Linked DNA regions of Homo sapiens: region 1 is linked to region 2. Evidence: fine-mapped expression QTL. A gene starts in region 2. The other region holds a variant in brackets. All regions are shown on one strand. Distances are from middle to middle. Region 1 has its middle 15 kb from the start of DHRS4L2. Region 2 holds the start of CARMIL3 (capping protein regulator and myosin 1 linker 3).

What was found. PIP is the estimated chance that this variant, and not a neighbour inherited with it, causes the effect. A credible set is the group of variants that fine-mapping cannot tell apart.
Region 1: its variant is the best candidate, but not a certain one, in a credible set for the expression of CARMIL3 in monocytes (BLUEPRINT, PIP 0.85).

Annotation. Positions count from the first base shown.
Region 1 is chr14:23,971,626-23,976,009 of GRCh38, reverse strand. It overlaps a transcript of DHRS4L2 not described here. Among named protein-coding and RNA genes, the nearest start is that of DHRS4L2, 15 kb to the left of the region's middle. The variant G/T (reference allele first, on the strand shown) is at 1,845.
Region 2 is chr14:24,049,720-24,054,083 of GRCh38, reverse strand. It overlaps CARMIL3 (capping protein regulator and myosin 1 linker 3), which reads right to left and starts at 2,075. Exons shown (of 40, transcript NM_138360.4): 1 at 1,891-2,075; 2 at 281-375. The coding sequence starts at 1,930. It also overlaps the pseudogene DHRS4L1. RefSeq lists an enhancer at 718-1,417 and silencers at 1,433-1,602, 1,623-1,712, 1,983-2,282.

The DNA.
Region 1 (4,384 bases), 78 kb after region 2:
TTCTAGGGTTTTTATGGTTTTAGGTCTTACATTTAAGGCTTTAATCCATCTTGAGTTAATTTTAGTATAAGGTGTAAGGAACGCATGCAGTTTCAGCTTTCTACATATGGCTAGCTAGTTTTCCCAGCACCATTTATTAAATAGGGAATCCTTTCCCCATTGCTTGTTTCTGTCAGGTTTGTCAAAGAGCAGATGGTTGAAGATGTGTGGTGTTATTTCTGAGGCTTCTGTTCTGTTCCATTATTTCTGAGGCCTCTGTTCTGTTCCATTGGTCTAGATATGTTTTGGTACCGGTACCATGCTGTTTTGGTTACTGTAGCCTTGCAGTATAGTTTGAAGTCAGGTAGTGTGACGCCTCCAGCTTTGTTCTTTTTGCTTATGATTTCCTTGGCTATACTGGCTCTTTTTTGGTTCCATATGAAATTTAAAGTAGTTTTTTCCAATTCTGTGAGGAAAGTCAGTGGTAGCTTGATGGGGATAGCATTGAGTCTATAATTTACTTTGGGCAATATGGCCATTTTCATGATATTGAGTCTTCCTATCGATGAGCATGCAATATTCTTCCATTTGTTTGTGTCCTCACTTATTTCCTTGAGCAGTGGTTTGTAGTTTTCCTTGAAGAGGTCCTTCACATCCCTTGTAAGTTGGATTTCTAGGTATTTTATTCTCTTTGTAGCAATTGTGAATGGGACTTCACTCATGATTTGGCTCTCTGTCTATTATTTGCATATAGGAATGCTTGTGATTTTTGCACATTGATTTTGTATCCTGAGACTTTGCTGAAGTTGCTTATCAGCTTAAGGAGATTTTGGGCTGAGATCATGGGGTTTCTAAATATACGGTGAAATCATCTGCAAACAGAGACAATTTGACTTCCTCTTTTCCTAATTGAATACCCTTTATTTCTTCCTCTTGCCTGATTGCCCTGGCCAGAACTTCCAATACTATGTTGAATAAGAGTGGTGAGAGAATGCATCCTTATGCTGGATTCGGTTTGCCAGTATTTTATTGAGGATTTTTGCATTGATGTTCATCAGGGATACTGGCCTAAAATTTTCTTTGTTTTGTTGTGTCTCTGCCAAGCTTTGATATCCGGATGATTCTGGCATTATAAAATGAGTTAGGGAGGATTCTTTCTTTTTCTATTGATCGGTATAGTTTCAGAAGGAATAGTACCAGCTCCTCTTTGTACCTCTGGTAGAATTCGGCTATGAATCCATCTGGTCCTGGACTTTTTTGGTTTGGTAGGCTATTAATTATTGCCTCAATTTCAGAAGCTGTTATTGGTCTATTCAGCAATTCAACTTCGTCCTGATTTAGTCTGCAGAAGGTGTATGTGTCCAAGAATTTATCCAATTCTTCTAGGTTTTCTAGTTTATTTGCATAGAGGTGTTTATAGTATTCTCTGATGGTAGTGTGTATTTCTGTGGGATCACTGGTGATATCCCCTTTATGATTTTTTATTGTGTCTATTTGACTCTTCTCTCTTTTCTTCCTTATTAGTCTTGCTAGCAGTCCATTTTGTTGATCTTTTCAAAAATCCAGCTCCTGGATTCATTGATCCTTTGAAGGTTTTTTTTTTAATGTCTCTATCACCTTCAGTTCTGCTCTGATCATCATTATTTGTTGTCTTCTGCTAGCTTTTGAATTTGTTTGCTCTTGCTTCTCTAGTTCTTTTAATTTTGAGGTTAGGGTGTTGATTTTAGATCTTTCCTGCTTTCTCTTGTGGGTATTCAGTGCTGTAAATATCCCTCTACACACTGTTTTAAATGTGTCCCAGAGATTCTGCTACACTGTGTCTTTGTTCTCATTGGTTTCAAAGACCATGTTTATTTCTGCCTTCA[G/T]TTTGTTATTTACCTAGTAGTCATTCAGGAGCAGGTTGTTCAGTTTCCATGTAGTTGTGCAGTTTTGAGTGAGTTTTTCAGTCCTGAGTTCTAATTTGATTGCACTGTGGTCTGGGAGACAGTTTGTTGTGATTGCTGTTCTTTGGCATTTGCTGAGGAGTGTTTTACTTCCAATTATGTGGTCAATTTTAGAATAAGTGTGATGTGGTGCTGAGAAGAATGTATATTGTGTTGACTTGGGGTGGAGAGTTCTGTAGATGTGTATTAGGCCTACTTGGTCTAGAGCTGAGTTCAAGTCCTGGACATCCTTATTAATTTTGTCATGTTTTCTGTCTAATATTAACAGTGGGGTGTTACTGTCTCCCATTACTATTGTATGGGAGTCTAAGCCTCTTTGTAGGTCTCTAAGAACTTGCTTTATGAATCTGGGTTCTCCTGTATTGGGTGCATATATATTTAGGATAGTTAGCTCTTCTTGTTGAACTGATCCCCTTACCATTATGTGATGGCCTTCTTTGTCTCCTTTCATCTTTGTTGGTTTAATGTCTGTTTTATCAGAGACCAGGATTGCAATCCCTGCTTTTTTTTGCTTTCCATTTGTTTTGTAGATCTTCCTCCATCCCTTTGAGAGGTGGCAGTGTGCTGGCAGCCCTCGCTCACTCTTGGCACCTCCTCAGCCTCAGCACCCACTCTGGCCACGCTTGAGGAGCCCTTCAGCCCGCCGCTGCACTGTGGGAGCCCCTTTCTGGGCTGGCTGAGACTGGAGCTGGCTTCCTCAGATTGCAGGGAGGTGTGGAGGGAGAGGCATGGGCGGGAACTGGGGCTGTGCGCAGCACTTGCAGGCCAGCACGAGTTCTGGGTGGGTGTGGCCTTGGCGGCACAATGCACTGCAGAAAGCCACAGGGACCTCTGCCCTTGAAAGCAGGGTATTGTCCAAGGTTTCTCCCCATGTGATAGTCTGAAATATGGCCTCATGGGATGAGAAAGACCTGACTGTCCCCCAGCCTGACACCCATAAAGGGTCTGTGCTCTGGTGGATTAGTAAAAGAGGAAAGCCTCTTGCAGTCGAGATAGAGGAAGGCCACTGTCTCCTGCCTGCCCATGGGAACTAAATGTCTCGGTATAAATCCCGATTGTACATTTGTTCAATTCTGAAATGAGAGAAAAACTGCCCTATGGTGGGAGGCGAGACATGTTTGCAGCAATGCTGCCTTGTTATTCTTTACTCCACCGACATGTTTGGGTGGAGAGAAACATAAATCTGGCTTACGTGCACGTCCAGTCATAGTACCTTCCCTTGAACTGAATTATGATGTAGATTCTATTGCTCACGTTTGTTGCTGACCTTCTCCTTATTATCACCCTGCCCTCCTACTACATTCCTTTTTACTGAAATAATGACGATAATAATCAATAAAAACTGAGGGAATTCAGAGACCGGTGCCGGTGCAGGTCCTTGGTATGCTGAGCGCCGGTCCCCTGGACTCACTGTTGTTTCTCTATACTTTGTCTCTGTGTCTTATTTCTCTTTCTCAGTCTCTTGTCCCACCTGACTAGAAATACCCACAGGTGTGGAGGGGCAAGCCACCCCTTCAAGCAGTAGCAACCCGCTTGGGTCCCCTTCCACACTGTGGAAGCTTTGTTCTTTCACTCTTTGCAATAAATCTTGCTGCTGCTCACTCTTTGGGTCCACACTGCCTTTATGAGCTGTAACACTCACCGTGAAGGTCTGCAGCTTCACTCCTGAGGCCAGTGAGGCCACGAACCCACCAGGAGGAATGAACAACTCCAGACAGGAGGAACGAACAACTCCAGACATGCTGCCTTAAGAGCTGTAACACTCACTGCGAAGGTCCGCAGCTTCACTCCTGAAGCCAGCAAGACCACGAACCCACCAGAAGGAAGAAACTCTGAACATGTCTGAACATCAGAAGGAACAAACTCCAGACACGCTGCCTTTAAGAACTGTAACACTCACCGCGAGGGTCCGCAGCTTCATTCTTGAAGTCAGTGAGACCAAGAACCCACCAATTCCAGACATACCTTCATTTTGGGCCTATGTGTGTCTTTGCATGTGAGATGGGTCTCCTGAATACAGCACACCATATGGGTCTTGATTCTTTATCCAATTTGCCAGTCTGTGTCTTTTAATTGGGGCATTTATCCCATTTACATTGAAGGTTAGTATTGTTATATGTGAATTTGATCCTGTCATGACGTTAGCTGGTTATTTTGCCCATTAATTGATGCAGTTTCTTCATAGCATCAATGGTCTTTACAATTTCGTATGTTTTTGCAGTGGCTGGTACCCGTTGTTCCTTTCCATGTTTAGTGCTTCCTTCAGGAGCTCTTATTGTAAGGCAGGCCTGGTGGTGACAAAATCTCTCAGCATCTCCTTGTCTGCAAAGGATTTTATTTCTCATTCACATACGAAGCTTAGTTTGGCTGGATATGAAATTCTAGTTTCAAAAATCTTTTCTTTCAGAATGTTGAATATTGGTCCCAACTCTTTTCTGGTTTGTATGGTTTCTGCTGAGAGA
Region 2 (4,364 bases):
AGAGAGAGGAAAAAATCGGCAGCTCATGGCAGCTGCTGGGCCTTGGTGGCCCTGCCCTCCTTAAGCCCTTCAGCTCTGCTCTTGGAGTGTCTCCCCAACCCGATGCCCTACCCTAGACTTCTGGACATCAACACAGTCCAGCCCTGCCTCCTCCCCCCAGGTTTTGTCTCCTCAGTGTCCACCCACTTCTGTCTCTTCTGTCCTCCCGGCTCCCTGCCCTCTACTGGCCAGCTGCCCTTGCCAGCCACCTCCTCCCTCCCCACATGCCCAGTGCCCTCACCAGCACTCGGTCCTCAAACTTCTTGGGCTTTGTCTCCAACTTCACATGATGTTGTTGGAGCACGGCCCCTTGGCTCAGGCACCTCCGGATGCTGTCTGAGGGGGGGTGGGAGCCTGCTCAGAGCTTCACCTTACCCTGGCCACCCCCACCTCCCAGAGCTCTCCAGATAGAGGCAGGGTCAGGGTCAAATGGGATAAGAGAGAAACAGAGAGACAAAGAAGGGAGGACAGGGACAGAGGGCATTCCTTCTTGGGTGACTTTTCACACTGTCTCTTTTTTGACTTTTCTCTTCCTATTAGAGAGGGAGTAGGGTGTGGAGAAAACTCCGGCTCCTGATGTCCCTGAGTCAGGGGACGGTTGCTGACTGTCTGTGGGAGGGTGTGTCTCACACTTCTGAGGGTGTGAAGAATTTTTCCAACCCATGCACTACAACAGCCATTGACACATACAAAGTGAGTCACTGTGTGGGGGTGTGGGGTGTCCCTTTGACTATATTCTAGGTGGTCCGGGTGTGAGTGTCTGCCTTTACTATGAGAGTGTGCATGCCTCCTGGAGATGTCAGGGAGCCTGAGTGTGGCATTGGTGGGGACAGGTAAGTGTGAATGAGTATGCTGTGGAAGGGGCACAGAGCCAGACACTTCCTCTGTGTGTGTTGGGCGGGGAGAAGAATTAATGTTTAAATGAGCCCCATACCCATCTGCTGGCAGAACCACCCAGATATAGTGTGTGTGTGTGTGTGTGCACGCGCGTGTGCTGGGGTGCCATCTCTGTGAAGATGTGTTTACACACGTCTAATGATTGTGCTGTGTGTGTGTGCAGGTGTGGGAGATTGCCACGGCGCAGCATGCCTCTGAGTATCCACGAGCATCCTGCGCTTTGCGTGGGCTAGCCTGTGCTCCCGTCTCTGGGGGTCAGGGTTGTGGCAGTGCTGGGTGGCCGGGCCTGGGTTTGGGCTAGGTCTGAGAACCATGCAAACGGGAGAAGCCTTGATGTGTGGGTGGTGGGTAGCGAGAAGGAAGCAGGCTGGGACGGGGCTGTGGGAGGCGAGCCTCAGAGACCCTCCTGCTCTTGGTTTTAGCTCCAATCCAGGGCCTCTTCCCTGACTCCTTTCTTTGCCCCACTGGCCTGGGCGCTGCCCAGCTCCTAAGGGGCTCTTCAGGGCCAGTTCCGGGGCGGGGCCGGGAGGAGGGAGGGTGTTAAGCCACGCAGCGGTCAGGACCAGGGGCAGCTCCCATCGCAGGGAGGGGCGGGCTTGGCCCCGCCCGGCGGGGAAGCGGGGACTCTCCGGATGGGAGACTGGACGCTTCGCCGAGGGTGGGCTAGGAACGCCGAGAGTCAGCCCCAGGGAGCGCCAGGGAACTGCACCTGTCACCGAAGGGCGGGACGGGCGGCTCCGGGACAGGAAGGTCCCGACCGGGTGAGGCGAGGCAGGCAGCGGAGGATGCTCCGGGGACAGCGATGCCCGGACTGGAATGCAGGGGCTGCCTTGGAGCCAGGATGCATGGGGTGAGGGGTGTGAGACACCGGGCTGGGATGCACCACGGGGAGGAACGCGCTGGGTCTGGGATGCTCCCGGACGGGGCGTCCCAGAGACCGAGGCAGCCTCGTACCTTGCAACTCGCGGGTGAGCTCCACGCTGGGCTTGGCCATGGCGGCCGCTGCTGCTGAGGCTGCTGCAGAGGAGCCGCCGCCGCCGCCGGGGAGCCGCGGCACATGCTAGACCCGGCTTCAGCAGGGCCCGGGCGCTGAGCGCTGCAGCAGCGGCCGAGCCCGCTCCGGTCAGGGGCGGCTGCTTGAGCGCTCCTCCCCCCGCCTCGGAGCGCCGGCTCCCCCGCCCAGCAGGGAGAGCTGCCGGACTGAGCATGCGCTCCGCGCTGCCGAGCCGCGTGAGACCCCGCGCGCGCTCGCGCCGACCCTTCTCGCTGGCTCCCGCGTGAGCTGGCCGGTGTGCGTCGCCCGGTGTCCGGGCCTTCGGGGCGGGGGGCAGCGTCCCCGCTTTCCATCTACTCAATCCTCGGGCCCGTGGGCAGAAGCCATTTCTTTTGTTTGTGGGCCCGGGCACCTTGCAGGGCCTTTCTCTATTCCCCACCGGCTCAGGACCCCTCCAGCTTGTCCTTGCTGACTCGGGACCTAGGGCCATGCTGGGAGAGGGCATGGCTGGATCTGGGAGGCGAGGGGCGGGGAGGTGTTAGAGAGTTCCTCCTTCCCCACCCTCGCCCGACTCGCCCTGCCTCGGGGATCCCCGTGGCGTCCTGGGAGTTCCTGTCCCACCTTCCTTCCAGTTGGCAGCTCTGCAGACACCTCCACCCCTGAACATCACGCTCAGGTCCTGGAGACAGGGAGGAGGGCTGGGGGATCCAGAGATCCAGCCTGGCCAGACTTCTGCTCTCTGCTCAGCTAAGCACCCCGCACTGAGAAAACGTCGATTCGATTCAAAGCCGCGCAATCATCTGCATTTTATTTGCACCTCATTTGCAAGTTGTTAATTTGCAACTCTGCTCCTTCCACTCCAGCTTCCTTCTCTCTCATCTCCCCTCAAATTCCCCAGTGGCCTGGGCAAAAAATATCTTGGTCTTTGCCAAGGTAGACTCAGCCTTGTCAGCAGGCCTGTCCTGTGTTCTCAGGGGAGGCCTTTACCCAAGGCCACAACAACAGCAGGAATCCCGAGTAAGACACCACCTTGACGGCAGGGAAGGCTGGATCTTTTCACAGGGCAGAACTGATTTGATGAGGTGAACAGTAAGGTGAGCAGAGGTGGGAAAGGCCAGTGGGTGAATGCAGGAACAGCACCAGGAGCTAGAGCCCAACTCTGGCCTGTGGGCTGTCTCCGGGTCCTCAGAGGCGGGACGGGGTTCCTCCACCCACCATCACTGTTTCCCCAGTGAGGTAGCTGGCATCTTCAGAGCACAGGAAAGACACGATGCCAAGAGAATCCTCTGGCTCGCCTAACCTGGGGAATAGGGGAAGCAAGGAAGGGAGTAAAAATCAAACAGGTCTGCCTCCCTCACCTGGGACACGGGGAATGAAATTTGCTTAATCAAGAATTATCAGATAACTTTTCAGGATCAGTGTACAAACTTTCCGCCTATCAAATAGGGTTACCATGAGGATATGCTGTTATAATTTAGTATAAGCATACTGTACTCTGCAAAAACCATTACCCATAATATTCAAATACTATAGAGACACTGTTTTTTAGAGAGCTCAGGACACCAAAATCCAAAGTTATACAGGTAAAATAGTAATTATTTCATACTTCAAAAAAATGGTTTCACATGTGCACACACTAAAGTATCAGGGAGTCTGTGTGACAGTAAATGGTGTGTTTAAAATGATTCCATTTGTACAGGTTCAACTTAGAGACAATTTTTTCAGGAATCTATACTTGTCCCTTAAAGTCAGGATCATTTGGTGAGAATGTGCTAATTCTTATTTTATCAGTGACTGCATAGTTAGGAGACACTTTAATCTGCCTGCCATAGAATGCTCTAGAGGTGGGCAGAGTAACTCAAACCTAGAAGGGCTGAATTAATGCTTCTCCATTCTAGCTGTACCTTGCAATCATTTGAGAGGCTTAAACAAAAAAAGAAAAGAAAAGACAAAGAAAAACAAAACCCTAGATGGTCAAGTCCTACCTTGGACCAATTAAAAAAGAATCTTTGGGAGTGGGTGGGGCCTGAGCACCTGCAGTTTAAAAAGCTCCCCAGGTGATTCTAATGTGCATCCAGTATTGAGCTACATGGGCTAGATCATTCACTGGAGCTCTAGGTTGACAATCCCCTGACTTATTAATGAGTTATGAACTAGGCCTGTAGCTCATGCCTGACATCAGAATGGCTTTGGGAAGATTTGGGATGTCTGGACCAGTACGGAATTAGGCATTGCTGGCATTTGTCCTTGAGGGACAAGATGGAGAAACTAGATAGTGCCCAGAAGCCAGAAGGTAGAGAGAGGCAGGGAACTTAGAGGAAAGGGAGCCCGACAAAGGTGCTTGAACAGTTCACCCAGCTCACTGGGGAAGAAAGTAACTCCTTAGGCAAGGGGAGTTTGGGGCTTAGTAAAACTCTTCATTCTTTTCATTTGG